2 separate regions of the Homo sapiens genome follow, and region 1 is linked to region 2. Evidence: fine-mapped expression QTL. A gene starts in region 2. The other region holds a variant in brackets. All regions are shown on one strand. Distances are from middle to middle. Region 1 has its middle 10 kb from the start of AP1M2. Region 2 holds the start of SLC44A2 (solute carrier family 44 member 2 (CTL2 blood group)).

Evidence for each region.
Region 1: its variant is fine-mapped to the expression of SLC44A2 in blood mononuclear cells (TOPMed, PIP above 0.99). The same link has a PIP of 0.9 or more in whole blood.

Annotation. Positions count from the first base shown.
Region 1 is chr19:10,592,835-10,602,165 of GRCh38, reverse strand. It overlaps the pseudogene LSM2P1. Among named protein-coding and RNA genes, the nearest start is that of AP1M2, 10 kb to the right of the region's middle. RefSeq lists enhancers at 6,334-6,523, 7,998-8,522, 9,049-9,331. The variant C/A (reference allele first, on the strand shown) is at 5,442.
Region 2 is chr19:10,620,868-10,630,198 of GRCh38, reverse strand. SLC44A2 (solute carrier family 44 member 2 (CTL2 blood group)) reads right to left here and starts at 4,646. Exons shown (of 22, transcript NM_020428.4): 1 at 4,529-4,646; 2 at 3,898-3,946; 3 at 2,404-2,477; 4 at 2,195-2,279. The coding sequence starts at 4,565. RefSeq lists an enhancer at 5,607-6,188.

The DNA of each region.
Region 1 (9,331 bases), 28 kb after region 2:
GGAGGCTGAGGCGGGAGGATAGCTTGGGCCAAATAGTTCCAGACCAGCCTGGGCAACATAGGAAGACCCTCATCTGTACAAAAAATTTAAAAAATTAGCTGGGCTTGGTGAGGCACACTTGTAATTCAGCTACTCGGGAGCCTGAGGTAGGAGGATCACTTGAGTCCAAGAGTTTGAGGCTGCAGTGAGCTATGATTGTGCCACTGCCTGGGCAACCCTGTCTCAAAATAATAATAAGAATTAATAATAATAATAGGCCGGGCGCAGTGGCTCACGCCTGTAATCCCAGCACTTTGGGAGGCCGAGGCGGGAAGATGGTCAGGAGATCGAGACCATCCTGGCTAACACGGTGAAACCCCGTCTCTACTAAAAATACAAAACATTAGCCGGGAGTGGTGGCGGGCACCTGTAATCTCAGCTACTCGGGAGGCTGAGGCAGGAGAATGGCGTGAACCCGGGAGGCGGAGCTTGCAGTGAGCCGAGACCGTGTCACTGCACTCCAGCCTGGGCGACAGAGCGACACTCCGTCTCCGTCTCAAAAAATAAAATAAAATAAAATAAAATAAAAATAATAATAGAAGATGGATAGATAAATAATTGATAGGTAAATATTGATCACCGTGTACCACTGAACATACCAAAAGATGCCATTTTCATTCATCAGATTGGTAAGAATTTTAGAGTTTAATAACATAAAATCAGGTGAGTGAATACTTTGAAGCAGAATGTTTCCTGGCAGAAAGAGTATATCCAAGTCATGTTCACCTGGTGCGATTCCTGTCTGGCACTGACCCTGGACAAACCACTGCAGGTGTGTGTGCATGGGATGTAGTAACCAAGGGGTGTTCCCTGCAGCCTTGACAGTTATTGTGGAAAAAATGGGTGAAAACAGGCCGGGTGCGGAGGCTCACGCCTGTAATCCCAGCACTTTGGGAGGCCGAGGCGGGCGGATCACTTGAAGTCGGGAGTTCGAGACCAGCCTGACCAACATGGAGAATCCCTGTCTTTACTAAAAATACAAAAAATTAGCCTGGTGTGGTGGCACATGCCTGTAATCCCAGCTACTCTGGAGGCTGAGGAGGAGAATCGCTTGAACCCAGGAGGTGGAGGTTGCGGTGAGCTGAGATGACGCTATTGCACTCCAAACTGGGCAACAGAACTGGGCAAAAAGCGAAACTCTGTCTCAAAAAGAAAAAAAAAAAGAAAGAAAAATGGGTGAAAACATCACTGCACTCCAGCCTGGGTGACAGAGTGAGACCCTGTCTCAAAAAAAAAAAAAAAAAGAAAGAAAGAAAGAAAAAAGAATAAAGCACGAAGTCATCAGGGAAATGTAAATCAAAACCTCGATGAGATATCATTGCACACCCACCTGAATAGCTAAAATTAAAAAGACTGGTCGAACCAAGTGTTGAGGAAGATGGGAAGCATATGGGGGCTCTCCTACACTGTTGGTGAGAATGTAAAATGCCACAACCAGTTGGAAAACGATCTGGCAGTTTCTTGCAAAGTTAATACCCTAGAAATTGCACTTCTAGGTATATACCCAAGAAAAAGTATAAGTGAAGAAAAGAAAAACCCACAGACACATTCATATAAATGTTCATGATAGCCTTATAGTATCCTTATTCGTAGTGGGCAAAAAAACTAGGAGCAGCCCAAATGCCCATTAACAGATCATTGGTGAAGCAAACCATGGTGGGTTTCACCCATACCATGGGATTCTCCTTAGTGATGAGGAATGAATGTTTTCTTCTTTCTTTTTTTAGGGACAGGATCTTGCTGTATTGCCCAGGCTGGATTGCGATGGTGCAGTCATAGCTGACTGAAGCCCTGACCTCCTCAGCTCAAGTGATCCTCCTGCCTCAGCCTCCCGTTGCTGGGACTACAGGCACACACTATCATGCCTGGCTAATTTCTTTCTTTCTTTCTTTTTTTGACAAAGTTTCACTCTTGTTGCTCAGGCTGGAGTGCAATGGTGCAATGGTGTGATCTCAGCTCACCGCAACCTCCGTCTCCCAAGTTCAAGTGATTCTCCTGCCTTAGTCTCTGAGTAGCCGGGATTACAGGCATGCACCACCACGCCTGGCTAATTTTGTATTTTTAGTAGAGACGGGGTTTCTCTATGTTGGTCGGGCTGGTCTGGAACTCCCGACCTCAGGTGATCCGCCCCCCTCAGCCTCCAAAAGTGCTGGGATTATAGGCATGAGCCACCGCACCTGGACATACTCGGCTAATTTTTTAAATTTTTGTGGAGATGAGGGTCTCCCTATGGGTGCCCAGGCTGGTCTCAAGTGATCCTTCTGCCTCAGCCTCCTAGAGTGCTGAGATTACAGGTGTGAGCCACAGCGCCTGGTCCAGGAATAAACTATTGATACAGGCAAAAATATGGATGAATCTCTCCCCAAAAAGCATAATGTTGTGTGAAAGAAACCACACACTTTTTTCTGAAGTTCAAGAACAGGCATAGCTAATCAACCTATAGTAACAGAACATATATCAGTGGTTGACTTTTGGGGTAGTAATAACTACTGGGATGATAGGAGCAGCTTCTGGGCACTGGAAACAGAATTGTAGTTACATAGCTTAGTTTAGTTTGTGAATACTTGACCTTCTCCCCCGTACTCTGCCTGCCTTTTTTTTCTGAGACAGAATCTTGCTCTGTTGCCCAAGCTGGAGTACAGTGGCAATTTTTGTATTTTAGTAGAGACGGGGTTTCGCCATGTTGCCCAGGCTGGTCTCGAACTCCTGATCTCAGGTGATCCACCAACCTCAGCCTCCCAAAGTGCAGGGATTACAGGTGTAAGCCGCTGTGCCCAACCGACTTCTGCCCTTTTAAAATATGTGTTGCTGGCCCGGCACGGTGGCTCACGCCTGTAATCCCAGCACTTTGGGAAGCTGAGTTGAGTGGATCACAAGGTCAGGAGTTCAAGACCAGCTTGACTAACTTGGTGAAACCTGGTCCCTACTAAAAATACAAAAAAAAAAAAAAATTAGACGGGCGTGGCGGCGGGCGCCTGTAATCCCAGCTCCTCAGGAGGCTGAGGCAGAGAATTGCTTGACCCCGGGAGGCAGAGGTCGCAGTGAGCCAAGATTGCACCACTGCACTCCGGCCTGGGTGAAAGAGTGAGACAGCATCTCAAATAAATAAATAAATAAAATAAAATATGTGTTGCTCTTCCTGGTCAGGTCGCCAGCATCATGCTCTTCTATTCCTTTTTTCAAGTCCCTTGTGGGCATGAATGTGGTCATGGAACTCAAGAAAGACCTGAACATCTGTGGCACCCTCCATTCGGTGGATCAGTATCTCAACATCAAATGAGCTGACATCAGTATCACACACCTTGAGAAATATCCTCACATTTTATCAGTGAAGAACTTCTAGGCTGGGTGCAGTGGCTCACACCTGTAACCCCAGCACTTTGGGAGGCCAAGGCAGGTGGATCACCTGAGGTCAGGAGTTTGAGACCAGCCTGGCCAACATGGCAAAACCCCATCTCTACTAAAATACAAAACTTAGCCGGATGTGGTGGCGGGCGCCTGTATTCACAGCTACTCGGGAAGCTGAGGCAGGAGAGTTGCTGGAACCCGGGAGGTGGAGGCTGCAGTGAGCTGAAATCATGCCACTGCACTCCAGCCTGGGTGACAGAGCGAGACTCTGTCTCAAAAAAAGTTTTTTAAAAAGGACTGTTTCATTCCGGGCTCAGTGGTCCCATACGTGCAGTTGCCAGCAAAGGAGGTCGACACACAGTTGCCATAGCATGCAGCAAGGAAGAAAGCCAGCAGTAGTAAGTGACAGCCCCTCCTTCTCTTCCCTTCCCTCTTCCTTGGTGACCTGTAACTCCAAGTCCCAGCCCAGGACCCCTAACTCCCAATACTTGAAGGGGTTTTGTTTGTTTTTTTACTAATGATGGTTTTGTGGGTTTTTTTTAAAAAAGGGAAGAGTGGATAAGGGGAATAATAGGGAACAGGTATCCTTTGTTGAGAAAGGGAGAAGAGGTAGGCTGGGAAACTCCAAAGCCTTCCCAGTCCCCAGCACCTGCCGTTCTCACTACCTCCCTGGAGATGGTGGGAGGGAGGGCTTCCTAGGTCTTTCCAGGGTACCATGTGATTCACCTGGGGGTTGAAAGGAATCTGTCCCATATTGGGAATAACATTTATGATGCAAATATATATGTGTGTTTGTATACATAATAAATAAAAAAGTTACATTTCAAAATGAGAATTTTTAAAATAGTTTAAGAAAAAAGGTGGTGGTCCTGCAGATTATAATAAGAGTGACTGTTTACAGCCAGGAGTGGTGGCTCACATCTGTGATCCCAGCACTCTGGGAGGCAGGAGGGTCACTTGAGGACAGGAGTTCAAGATTAGCCTGGACAACACGATGAAAATCTGTCTCTAAGGCCAGACGCAGTGGCTCTCACCTGTAATCCCAGCACTTTGGGAGGCCGAGGCGGGCGGATCACCTGAGGTCGGGAGTTCGAGACCAGCCCGACCAACATGGAGAAATCCCGTCTTTACTAAAAATACAAAATTAGCCGAGTGTGGTGGCACATGCATGTAATCCCAGCTACTTGGGAGGCTGAAGCAGGAGAATCACTTGAACCTGGGAGTCAGAGGTTGCAGTGATCCAAGAGTGCACCATTGCACACCAGCCTGGGTGACAGAACGAGACTCGGTCTCAAAAAAAAAAAAAAGGAAAGAAAGAGTGAATGTTTATAGAAAGCTTAGTCAGTGTCAGACAAGGTATTAAATGCTTTATATATTTTTTTAACTCTTTTTCTTTTTTTTGAAATAGAGACCAGGTCTCATTAGCCTCAATCGATCTGCCCATCTTGGCCTCTTGAAGTGCTGGGATTACAAGCATGAGCCACCATGCTGGCCAAGCACCTTTTTTTTTTGAACCAAGGCTGCTGGAGGGCAGTGGCGCGATCTTGGCTCACCCAGTAAAGTGCTCTCTGTGTGTGTATGTGTGTGTGTGTGTGTGTATATAGTTGTTGTTGTTTGTTTTAGTTTTTGAGATGGAGTCTCACTCTGTCGCCAAGCTGGAGTGCAGTGGCGTGATCTCAGCTCACTGCACCATCTGCCTCCCGGGTTCAAGCAATTCTCCTGCCTCAGCCTTCTGAGTAGCTGGGATTACAGCACCCACCACCACGCTCAGCTAGTTTTTTGTATTTTTAGTGAAGAACGGGTTTCACTGTCTTAGCCATGATGGTGTCAATCTCCTGACCTCATGATCCACCGCCTCGGCCTCCCAAAGTGCTGGGATTACAGGCGTGAGACACCGCGTCTGGCCCAAGCACTCTGTATTAAATCATTATAATCATTTTCCAATTGGGGAAAGTGACCCAGAGAGGTGAAGTAATTTACCCACAGTAACATAATGAGCCCGTGGCTCTGCAAGGATCTGAACCCAGGGAGTCCGACTTTACACCCAAGACACA[C/A]TTCCTTCCCCTTCAACCACATGCTTTCCGGAGTAGCGTCCAGGTCATATTGTTGAGTGATAATAGCAAGTTGTATTTTTTTTTTTTTATTTAAGACAGAGTCTCTCTCTGTCGCCCAGGCTGGAGTGCAGTGGTGCGAGCTCAGCTCACTGAAACCTCCTTCTCTTGGGTTCAAGTGATTTGTGTGCCTCAGCCTCTGGAGTAGCTGGGATTTCAGGTACGCACCACCATGCCCAGCTTAGTCTATATACATATATATATATATATATATAGTTGTTGTTGCTTGTTTGTTTTGTTTTGTTTTGTTTTTGAGACAGATTCTTGTTCTGTCACCCAGGCTCGAGTGCAGTGGCATGATCTCGGCTCACTGCAACCTCTGCCTCCTGGGTTCAAGCAATTCTCCTGCCTCAGCCTCCCGAGTAGCTGGGATTACAGGTGTCCGCCAGCATACCTGGCTAATTTTTTGTATTTTTAGTAGAGACAGGATTTTATCATGTTGGCCAGGCTTGTCTCAAACTCCTGACCTCAGGTGATTCACCTGCCTTAGCCTCCAAAGTGCAGGGATTACAGGCGTGAGCCACCACACCTGGCCAGTTTTTATATTTTTAGTAGAGACAGATTTTTTGCCATGTTGCCCAGGCTGCTCTTGAACTCTTGGCCTCAAGTGCCCCACCCGCCTCTGCCTCCCAAAGTTCTGGGATTACAGGTGAGAGCCACTGTGCCCATCCACAAGTTGTATAGTCTTATATGGTATGGGAGAAAGAGAGAGAAAGAGGGCAACACGCGCACACACACACACACACACACACACACACACAAACACACACACACACCCCCCTGCATGTAACCCAGCTGAAAAAGATCTGAATCAGCCAGTGGTTATGAGAGGGACGAAGATTGGGGTATGGGGGTGTCACAGGGGACTTTTTTTTTCTTTTTCTCTCACATCTCTGCTGGGAGGAACTTTTGCCTTTTCTTTAGTTTTGTTTTCTATTTTGTTTTCTCAGGAACTGGCTCAGCACAGTATTTTCTTAAGATAGGTTCTTGCTTTGTCACCGAGGCTGGAGTGCAGTGGTGCAACCATAGCTCACTGCAGCCTCAATCTTCTGGGCTCCAGTGATCCTCCCACCTCAGACTCCTGAGTAGCTGGGCATGGTGGCTTACACTTGTAATCCCAGCACATTGGGAGGCTGAGATGGGTGGATCACTTGAGGTCAGGAGTTTGAGACCAGCCTAGTCAACATGGCGAAACCCAGTCTCTACCAAAAATACAAAAATTAGCCCAGCGTGGTGGCAGATGCCTGTAATCCCAGCTACTTGGGAGGCTGAGGCAGGAGAATCACTTGAACTAGGAGAAGGAGGAGGTTGCAATTAGCTGAGATTGCGCCACTGCACTCCAGCCCCTGGGCGACAAAGTGAGAATCCGTCTCAAAAAAAAAAGAAAAAAAAGCTGGGCGCGGCGGCTCACGCCTATAATCCCAGCACTTTGGGAGGCTGAGGCAGGCACATCTCCAGGTCAGGAGTTCCAGACCAGCTTGGCCAAGAGACCAGCCTGGCCAATATGGCGAAACCCTGCCTCTACTAAAAATACAAAAATTAGCCGGGTGTGGTGGCAGGCACCTGTAGTCCCAGCTACTCGGGAGGCTGAGGCAGGAGAATGGCATGAACCCGGGAGGCAGAGCTTGCAGGGAGCTGAGATCGTGCCACTGCACTCCAGCCTGGGCAACAGAGCGAGACTCTGTCTCAAAAAAAAATAATAATAAAATAATAAAAGTAAATGAATAAATAAAATATAAAAAAATAAAATTAGCTGGGCGTGGTGGGGGGCGCCTGTAATCCCAGCTACTCAGGAGGCTGAGGCAGGAGAACTGCTTGAACCTAGGAGATGGAGGCTGCAGTGAGCCGAGATTGTGCCACTGCACTCAAGCCTCGGTGACGGTGAGACTCCATCTCAAAATAAATAAAAAAAAGAAAAGAAGAAGAAGAAGGAGGAGGAGGAGAAGGAAAAGGAGAAGAAGAAGAAGAAGAAGAGTGGGTGCCAGGGGTTGGGAGAGGGAGAAGGAGTGTTTCATAGGGAGAAGTTTTCCTTTGGGAAGATGAGAAAGTTCTGGAGATGGATGGTGGTGACGGTTGCATGGCCATTAATGTGCTTAATGCCACCGAACTGTGCACTTCAAAATGGCTAAGGTGGCCAGCTGTGGTGGCACGTGTCTATAGTCTCAGCTACTTGGGAGGCTGAGGTGGGAGGATGGCTTGAGACAGCAGGAGAGGAACTGAAATTCGGGCAGTTAGGGTGTCTGGGACAGCAGGTTCAGGTGGTGTCCTGTGGCAGAGGTCAGCAGGTGTCTGACTGTGCCAGGTGGGGGTGGTTGGAGGGCAATGGGGGGCCATAGAGGATGTGAGAGTGAGAGTCAAAAAATAATTGTGAGTTTCAGAGAGATCTCTTTAGTGGTGTGGAGAAGGGATTGTGGACAGGGCCTAGAGGCGTGGTCCCTGGGAGAGGCTGGAGGAGGCTCCAGGCATCCAGAAGGAACTAGGACAAGGCCACAGCCTCAGGGGGATGGGGGAGGCCGCCACTGAGGTGGGGCAGGCGGGGCAGGCAGAGCCAGCACACAGAGCTGCTCTGTTCTCTGACCCCAAGTAAGCTTTTGGGCTCATGAATTTTTCATGCCAAACAAGCCTGGAGTTTCAGATTCCAGGGCACTGGGCCCAGGCTTTCGGGTTCTGCTTACTGCCTGAAAACATCTCAGGGCCCCAGGAGATGAGTTCTTCATTTTGTTGTTGTTGTTGTTTTTGAGACAGAGTCTCACTCTATTGCCCCAGGCTGGAGTGCAATGGCGCAATCTTGGCTCACTGCAACCTCTGCCTCCCAGTTTCAAGTGATTCTCCTGCCTCAGTCTCCTGAGTAGGTGGGATTACAGGCATGTGCTACCACCCCCGGCTAATTCTGTATTTTTAGTCCAGACAGGGTTTCACCATTTTGGCCAGGCTGGTCTCAAACTCCTGACCTCAGGTGATCCACCCACCTCAGCCTCCCGAAGTGCTAGGATTACAGGCGTGAGCCACCACGCCCGGCTGCCAGGAGACGAGTTATTTTGAGGTTCAGCAATGTCTAGGCTGGGGTGAGGGCCTAGCAGTGACTGCATCCCCCTAGGTGACCTTCTCAGCAGGCAGTTGCTGGGAGCATGAAGGACCACCCCCCTCCTTTGGGCAGAAGCAACATAAAGTCTTGGGCTTTAGGCTGGGCGAGATGGCTCACGCCTATAATCCCAGCACTGTGGGAGGCCGAGGCGGGTGGACCACTTAAGTCCACAAGTTGGAGACCAGCCTGGGCGACATTGTGAAACCTGTCTGTACCAAAAAGTATAAAAATTAGCTGGATGTGGTGGTCACGCACCTGTGGTCCCAGCTGTGCAGGAGGCTGGGGTGGGAGAATTGCTTGATTGCTTGAACCTGGGGAGGTGGAGGTTGCAGTGAGCTGAGATCACACCACTGCACTCCAGCCTGGGTGACAGAGACCCTGCCTCAAAAATAATAATAATAATAATAATAATAATCAGGGCCAGGTGCGATGGCTCACCCCTGTAATCCCAGCACTTTGGGAGGCTGAGGTGGGTGGATCACCTGAGGTCGGGAGTTTGAGACCAGCCTGACCAACATGGAGAAACCTTGTCTGTACTAAAAATACAAAATTAGCCAGGCATGGTGGTGCATGCCTGTAATCCCAGCTACTTGGGAGGCTGAGGCAGGAGAATCACTTGAACCTGGGAGGCGGAGGGTATGGTGAGCCAAGGTTGCACCATTGCCCTCCAGCCTGGGCAACAAGAGTGAAATTCCATCTCAAAAAACAAAAAAGTCCGGGTGCAGTGGCTCAAACCTGTAATCCCAGC
Region 2 (9,331 bases):
TTTCTATTATTGGTAGCGACAGAATTTCACCATGTTGCCCAGGCTGGTGTCAAGCAATCCTCCAGTCTGGGCCTCCCTAAGTACTGGGATTACAGGCGTGAGCCACCGTGCCCGGCCTATTGTTTCCTTTAAGATATTTTATATGGCCGGGTGCAGTAACTCACACCTGTAATCCCAGCACTTTTGGAGGCCAAGGCAGGCGGATCACCTGAGGTCAGGAGTTCGAGACCAGCCTGGCCAACGTGGCGAAACCCCGTCTGTACTAAAAATACAAAAAATTAGCTGGGTGTGGTGGCGGGCACCTGTAATCCCAGCTACTTAGGAGGCTGAGGCAGGAGAATTGCTTGAACCTGGGTGGCGGAGGTTGCAGTGAGCCAAGATCGCACCATTGCACTCCAGCCTGGGCGACAGAGCGAGACTCTGTCTCAAAAAAAAAAAAAGATATCTTATATAGGGCCAGGCAGGGTGGCTCAGGCCTGTCTTGTGCCAGCACTTTGGAAGGCCCAGGTGGGAAGATCGCTTAAGCCCAGGAGTTCCAGGCTGTAGCGAGCTATGATCCTGCCACTGGCTGACAGAGTGAGACACTGTGTCAAAATAATAATAATAGTAATAATAATAATAGGCCGGGTGTGGTGGCTCACACCCGTAATACCAGCAGTTTGGGAAGCCAAGGCAGGCAGATAACCTGAGGTCAGGAGTTCGAGACCAGCCTGACCAATATGATGAAACCCCGTCTCTACTAAAAATACAAAAATTAGCTGGGCATGGTGGCATATGCCTGTAATCCCAGCAACTCGGGAGGCTGAGGCAGGAGAACCGCTTGAACCCGGGAGACGGAGGTTGCAGTGGGCTGAGATTGTGCCACTGCACTCTAGCCTGGGTAACAAGAGCAAAATTCCGTTTCAAAATAATAATAGTAATAATAATAATAATAATAGTTTAAAAACTGCAGCATCAGCAACTCTATGCCAGGTGCCATTCTTTTTTTTTTTTTTGAGATGGAGTCTTGCTCTGTTGCCTAGGCTGGAGTGCAGTGGCACGATCTCGGCTCATTGCAACCTCTGCCTCCCAGGTTCAAGCAATTCTCCTGCCTCAGCCTCCTGAGTAACCGGGATTACAGGAACATGCCACAATGCCCAGCTAATTTTTTTGTATTTTTAGTAGAGACGGGGTTTCACCATGTTGACTAGGCTGGTCTTGATCCTCCCACCTCAGCCTCCCAAAGTGTGCTGGGATTACAGGTGTGAGCCACCACGCCCAGCGATGCCAGGTGGCATTCTAAGCTCTGTACATGTATTGGCACATCTAACCATCAAAATAGCCCCATGAGGGTGGGACTGTTATGATCCTCATTTTAGAGATGAGGAAAACGAGGTTCAGAGAGATTGAGACACCTGCCCTAGGTCACAGAGCCAGGAAGTGACGCCACTCAGGCTATGCTTGCTCTGTTGTCTCACCTGTTCATCACCACCTGACGCGTAATCCAGGACTGTCCCCTCTCAGTCTCTCCCGCCCTTAAAATGTGTGCTGCCAGAGAACAGGATGCTTACTATCTCATTTAGAGCTGTGTGTCCCCAAGGACTAGACTAGTGGCTGAGGGTAGTGGGACGTTTATCAGTACTTGTTTTCTTTTCTTGTTGTTTTGTTGAGACCAGGTCTCGCTCTGTCGTCCAGGCTGGAGTGCAATGGTACAATCATACCTTACTGCAGCCTTGGCCTCCCAGCTCAAGCTATCCTCCCACCTCAGCCTGCTGGGTAGCTGGGACTAGAGGTGTGCCCCACCACGTCCACTTAATTTTTGCTTGTTTGTTTTGAGACAGAGTCTCACTCTGTGCCCCAGGCTAAAGTGCAGTGGCACGATCTCGGCTCATTGCAACTTCTGCCTCCTGTGGTTCAAGTGATTCTCCTGCCTCAGCCTCCTGAGTAGCTGGGATTACAGGCATGTGCCACCATGCCTGGCTAATTTGTGTATTTTTAGTGGAGACGGGGTTTTGCCATGTTGGCCAGGCTGGTCTCGAACTCCTAGCCTAAAGCAATATTCCTGCCTCGGCCTCCCAAAGTGTTGGAATTTCGGGCGTGAGTCACCGCGCCCAGCCTATAAGCACTTGTTAACTGGACTTAGAGAGATGGGGAATGCCTAGAATCTTCTGCCCCCTCTTCCCCAGCCCCACCAGGCCGCAAGGAGTCAACTCACTCGTTTTTTGTGCCCTTCTGCCCGCAGAACTCGCCCCGGCTGTCAGTGGGGTAGATCACCTTTCGAGGGTCTCCATGAGTCCAGGCTGTGGAAAGATCCAGGGATACTGAGACACTGCCACTCCTCAGATCCAGCCCTGTTCCCACTCCAGAGGCCATGGCTGCCTCCGCCTACCCTGCAACTCCAAGTCCTGCTCATTCTCTACTCACCTATGATGCCTACAGCCACGTAGCCCACAATGGCCAGGAGCAGGAACACACAGCATATGATATCCGTGCAGCCCCTGGGGAGCAGAGGGGCAGTGTTTGGAGGAGGCTTGGTGCTGTGTGCACCATGGGCCCATCTGCCCTCTGCAAACACCCTCATCCATGTGTTATTTGGACAAATTTTCCTGAGTCGTTTGAATGCCGTACCAAAGGGCACATGCATTTTAATTTTTATTTCATTTCATTTTTTAATTTTGTGCAACAGAGTCTCACTCCGTCATCCAGGCTGGAGTACAGTGGCATGATCATAGCTCACTACAGCCTCGAACTCCTGGGCTCAAGTGATCCTCCTGCCTCAGCTTCCCAAGTAGTTGAGACTACAGGTGCACACCACCACACATTTTTTTTTTAATTTATATACATTCTGTAGAGACAAGGTCTCGCTATGTTGCCCAAGCTAGACTTTTTTTTTTTTTTTGAGAGGGAATCTCACTCTGTCGCCCAGGCTGGAGTGCAGTGGAACGATCTCAGCTTACTGCAACCTCTACCTCCCAGGTTCAAGCGATTCTCCTGCCTCAGTCTCCCAAGTAGCTGGGATTATAGGTGCCCGCCACCATGCCCAGCTAATTCTTGTATTTTTAGTAGAGACAGGGTTTCACCATGTTAGCCAGGCTGGTCTCGAACTCCTAACCTCAAGTGATCCACCTGCCTTGGCCTCCCAAAGTGCTGGGATTATAGGTGTGAGCCACCGTGCCTGGCTGTATTTTATTTTTTTGTTATTTTTTTTTGAGACAGAGTCTCGCTCTTGTCCTCCAGGCTGGAGTGCAGTGGCGCAATCTCAGCTTACTGCAACCTCCACCTCCCAGATTCAAGCAATTCTCCTGCCTCAGCCTTCTGAGTAGCCTCTGAGTAGTCACAGCTACTGGAGAGGCTGAGACAGAAGACGTGCTTGAACCAGGAGGGGAAGGTTGCAGTGAGCTGAGATTGCACCACTCCAGCCTGGGTGACAGAGTGAGACTCCATCTCAAAAATAAATAAATAAATAAATAAATATAAACATGGTAAAAATTAAGTCCAGGCCAGGTGTGGTAACTCACACCTGTAATCCCAGCACTTTGGGAGGCCAAGGCAGGTGGATCGCTTTGAGCTCACGAGGTCGAGACCAGCATGGGCAACACAGCGAAACATCTCTGCTAAAAGTACAAAAAAAAAAAAAAATTAGCCAGGTGTGGTGGTGCAAGCCTGTAATCCCAGCTACTTGGGAGACTGAGGTGGGAGAATTGCTCGAACCCGGGAGGCGAAGGTTGCAGTGAGCCGAGATTGAGATCGCGCCACGGCACTCCAGCCTGGTGACAGAGCAAGACTCCATCTCAAAAAAAAAAAAAAGTTTCAAATATTTGTCACCAGTTTGTTGGAGAACAGATGGGAGGGGGTGTGAAGAGACAGGGATTGGGGTAGTATTAGCGGGGAGAACCCCCCAAAACCCAGAGCTCTTACCTATTGTAAATGGGTCCTTTGAAAGTGGGATCATACTTCTGTGGCGTTCCTGAAAGTCAAGAAGATTAAGATGGATGGGATTGGAGACCTGAACCAAGACAGGGCTGGGAGAGCCCCCTCCCAAAAGCCCCTAGGGGTGTCTTTGCCTTGGCAAGAATAAAATTCAGAGACCTGTGGAATTTTCTGCCTCACCCACCTCCAGGTGACCACACCCAAGCCCCCAGTTCTGGCAGGCCAGGACAGGGGAGGAAGGAGGGATCACTAACTGTGAACAAACTTATTAACTGGCGGCCACCCACTGGGAAGAGGGCTGAAATGGTGACCACCACGGAACCAGGTGGAGATGGGGAAGATCTGAGGTGGGATAGGGGGAAGGAGGCGCCGGCAGCAGTGCCAGGCAGAGGGGTACAGGGGCAGGTCCTTCGGGTAGGGGAGAGTAAGGAGGGTCGTCTGCGAGGCTGCGGGGGATAAGTGGGGTGAAGGGGCCTGGCTGATGGTGGGGAGGCTCCAGGCGCAGATTTGCAATTGCGCTCCCCCTCCAGCCCCCTTCCCTGCGCCCCATGTTCTCTCAAGGCCCCCTCCGAGGGACCGAGGGGTCGGCCCGGGGCTACGGGCGGGGGTCGCTGCCTACCGTGTTTCCCGTAGTAGTGGGGCCGCTCGTCCCCCATCCCTGCAGGCGACCAGCCCCGGCGGCCGCCCGCGCTCTCTCCCGCGCCCCCTCGACCCTCCCGAGTCTGGAGGGAGGCACTGACCGCGCGACTGGCGGCGGCTCCTCCCAGCACAGCGCCAGGCGGGGCGGCCCAAACCGGTCAGACCGGCCCGAGCTGGGCAGCTGCCCAGACTAAGGGACCCGGGAGGGCGCGGGCGGGGCTGCAGCTGCTCCCGCCACTCACCGGCCGGCCGCATTTAGCCTTCCCCGCCCCCACCCGGGAACCCTGCGGCTTCACCCTGGGAACACCCTGCCACCGGGCGATGCCGCCTAGAACCCCTGGCCACCCTGAAAGGGCGTTTCCGTGGCTTCGTTTTGCAGGTGTGGAAACTGAGGCACTGGGAGGGAAAACGGCCTACTGCCCAAACCCAGACAACCAACTGTGGAATGTTGGTGCTGAAAACTTCTCCAAGCTGTGCAGGAAATTAGTTTTCTTTCTGTCTGCTGCTTTTTTTTTTTGAGACAGGATCTCCCTCTGTTGCCCAGGCTGGAGTGCAGTGGTGCAATCACAGCTCATCGCAGTCTCGACCTCCCTGCCTCAAGCCATCCTCCTGACTAAGCCTCCTGAGTAGCTGGGACTACAGGTGCTCTACTGCACTCGGCTAATTTTTAATTTTTTTTGTAGAGATGGGATGTTGCTATGTTGCCCAGGCTCATCTTTAACTCCTGGACTCGTGGGCTCCTCCCACCGTGGCCCCCCAAAGTGCTGGGATTACCTGCGTGCACTACTGGGCCTGGTCTTAGAACAAGTATTTATTCAGCCCTTAGTGGGTGCAGGCCTTGGGCGGGGCACCGCATACAGTGAGGAACCAGAGAGACCCAATCTCCACCCTTGTGGAGCCCACATCCTCCTGGGTCGCCCTGAATTCAAATGCTCCTTCTGCACCCTCTGAACTAGAGGATACTTAACAAAGGGCTTATCTTCCTTAAGCCTCAGTTTCCTCAACTGCAAAATGAGGCTAAAGTATGAAACCAAAACTGACCTCAAAGAGCAGGCATAGGCCAGGTGCAGTGGCTCATGCCTGTAATCCCAGCACTCTGGGAGGCTGAGGCAGGTCGATCAGGATTTCTAAGCCAGCCTGGCCAACATGGTGAAACCCCTTCTCTACTAAAAATACAAACATTAGCCAGTGTGGTGGCACATGCCTGTAATCCCAGCTACTTGGGAAGCTGAGGCAGGAGAATCGCTTAAACCCAGGAGGTGGAGGTTGCAGTGAGCCAAGATTGCCTCACTGCACTCCAACCTGGGGGACAGAGTGAGACTCTGTCTCCAAAAAGAAAAAGAAAAAAGAAAATAGGCTGGGTGTGGTGGCTAACACCTATAATCCCAGCACTTTGGGAGGCCGAGGTGGGCGGATCATGAGGTCAAGAGATCGAGACCATCCTGGCCAACTTGGTGAAACCCCGTCTGTACTAAAAATACAAAAATTAGCTGGATGTTGTGGTGTGCACCTGTAGTCCCAGCTACTTGGGAGGCTGAGGCAGGAGAATCACTTCAACCCGAGAGGCGGAGGTTGCAATGAGCCGAGATCGTGCCACTGCACTCCAGCCTGGGTGACAGAGCGAGTGTCTCAAAAAATCAATCAATCAATAAATCAAAAATTAGCCGGGTGTGGTGGTTCATGCCTGTAATCCCAGCACTGTGGGAGGCCGAGGCGGGCAGATCACTGAGGTCAGGAGTTCAAGACCAGCCTGGCCAACAAGGCAAAACCCTGTCTGTACTAAAAATACAAAAATTAGCCAGGTGTGGTGGTGGGCACCTGTAATCCCAGCTACTGGGGAGGCTGAAGTAGGAGAATCGTTTGAACCTGGGAGGTAGAGGTTGCAGTGAGCCGAGATTATGCCACTGTACTCCAGCCTGGGCGACAGAGCGAGACTCCGCCTCAAAAAAAAAAAAAAATACAATACAATAAAAATAGAGACAGGATCTCACTGTGTTACCCAGGCTGGGCTCAAACTCCTGGCCTTAAGCAATCCTCCCACCTCAACCTCCCAAAGTGCTGGGATTGCAGGCACGAGTCACCACGCCACAACCTGCCTCTACTTGAATATTTATAGATATTTATAGTGCAGCCAATTATTTGGTTAACATGGCATTATACAGGTGGTGTGGAGGTATCCTCAGCAGGAATATACATTTAGTGCTGGGTGTACACAGACAGCATGAGGTTATACAGTCAGCGTGATCATATACATTTGGTGTCCAATAATTGTAGCTGCTGCCTTAGACTCTAGGACTCGCAGGCAGGGCTCTGGTCACTAACTCAACTTATCCTTAAAAAGGCGCCCTCTCCTCCTAGTAGCCACCAGCAGAGGGGCCCTGTCTAAACACCTGGACCACAGGCAAGGCCTGAGGCGCCAGGTCATGCCCTGGGGTGACCCAGACTCCTAAAGAAGCCCTGTGGTTCTCGAAGTCTCTGCCAGCCCAAAGGCTGGCTGGTCCCACCCTACCCATTCCAAGCAGTGGACAAAGAGAGCGAGCCACAGGCCTCTTCTCTTCCCAACTACACAGGGTGCCCTGGGGACAATTTATTCAGGCCCCACCCACCAGCTCCACACTGAGGAGTCCCAAAAGTTAAGCCCTCTGGAAACCCTTGTCTCTGAGCTGCACACCTATGTGACATCTGTCTCCCCCCAACACACGTGAGCATCTCATACTCAGTGCGGCGGCATCTAAGCTTTTTTGTTTTTGAGACAGGGTCTCACTCTGTCGCCCAGGCTGGAATGCAGTGGCATAATCACAGCTCACTGTAGCTTTGACCTCCTGGGCTCAGGCGATCCTCCCACCTCAGCCTCCTGAGTAGCTGGGATCACAGGCACGCGCCACCACACTCAGGTAATTTTTTGTATTTTTAGTAGAGACAGGGTCTCGCAATGTTGCCCAGGCTGGTCTGGAACTCCTGGCCTCAGGGATCCTCCCACCTCAGCCTCCCAAAGTGCTGTAATTATAGGTGTGAGCCACCGTGCCTGGCCTGTCCAAGCTTCTGATTATCCCATGACTCCGCTCCATCCTCCCACGTGCTCTGGCCAGGAACCTGGGCTGCCTCTCTGCTTGAGATCAGTTTTGCCTTCAGAGCTATCCAGAATCCAACCTCTTCTCACCTGCTCCTCAAGCACCCACCCTTTCACACAGCCCTGTCATCTCCTGCCTGGACCAACACAGACACTTTCTATCCTCACTATAGCGGCCAGAGACATCTGTGCACACCTAAGTCAGGACACATCCCTGCTCTGCTCAGAAACCTCCATGGTTCCCACCTCATTCCGAGGAAAAAGCCCAGCTCTTCGCCACAGCCCACAAAGCCTTGCATGACCTGCCCTGTCACCTCCCTGCCCTCACCTCCTCCCTCTCTCTCTCCATGGCTTACTCTGTTCAGCCTCACTGGCCTCCTGGGTACGTCCCACGCTCAGCAGGCATGGTCTGACCTCAGGGCCTTTGCACTAGCTGCTCGGTCCCTCTGCTTAGAATGCTCTTCTCTCAGACATCCATACAGCTCCGTTGCCTTCAGGCCTTGCCTGAAATATCACCTTGGCAAGGCGTGGTGGCTCAAGCCTGTCATCTTAGCACTTGGGGAGGCTGAGACAGGCAGATCACTGGAGGCCAGTAGTTCGAGACCAGCCTGGGCAACACTGTGAAACCCCATCTCTACTAAAAGTACAAAAATTAGCCAGGTGAGGCCAGGCGCAGTGGCTCACGCCTATAATCCCAGCACTTTGGGAGGCCAAGGTGGGCAGATCACCTGAGGTCGGGAGTTCCAGACCAGCCTGACCAACATGGAGAAACCCTGTTTCTATTACTACAAAAATTAGCCGGGGCGAGGTGGTGCATGCCTGTAGTCCCAGCTACTTGGGAGGCTGAGGCACGAGAATCGCTTGAACCTGGGAAGCGGAGGTTGCAGCAAGCTGAGATCATGCCATTGCACTCCAGTCTGGGCAACAAGAGTGAAACTCCGTCTCAAAAATAAATAAATTAAATTAAAAATTAGCCAGGTGTGGTGACACATACCTGTAGTCCCAGCAACTTGGGAGGTGGAGGTGGGAGGATCACCTGAGACCAAGAGGTCGAGGCTGCAATGAGCCAAGATCCTGGCACTGTACTCCAGCCTGGGTGACAGAGCAAGACTCCATCTAAAAGAAAACCCACAAAAACCAAAAAAAAAAAAAAAAAAACACCCAACCATCCCTTTCCTCTCTGTCCTATGACCTTTTCTTTTCTTTCTTTCATTTTTTTTTTCTTTTTTGAGGCAGAGTCTCGCTCTGTCGCCCAGGCTGGAGTGCAGTGGTGCCATCTAGGCTCACTGCAACCTCCACCTCCCGGGTTCAAGTAGTTCTCCTGCCTCAGGCTCCCAAGTAGCTGGGACTACAGGCACACACCAACGTGCCTGGCTGATTTTTGTATTTTTAGTAGCAGAGACTGGCTTTTACCATGTCTCTACTACTGGTCTCGAACTCCTGACCTCAAGTGATCTGCCCACCTTGGCCTCCCAAAGTGCTGGGATTATAGGCATGAGCCACTATACCTGACCCCTATGACTTTCTCTTTGTTGTTATTATCAAATAGAGTCTTGCTTTGTCACTCAGCCTGGAATGCAGTGGAGCAATCATAGCTCACTGCAGCCTAAACCTCCTAGGCTCAAATGATCTTCTCGCCTCAGCCTCCCAAGTAGCTGTGACTATAGGCACACACCACCATGCCTGCCTAATTTTAAAATTTTTTGTAGACCA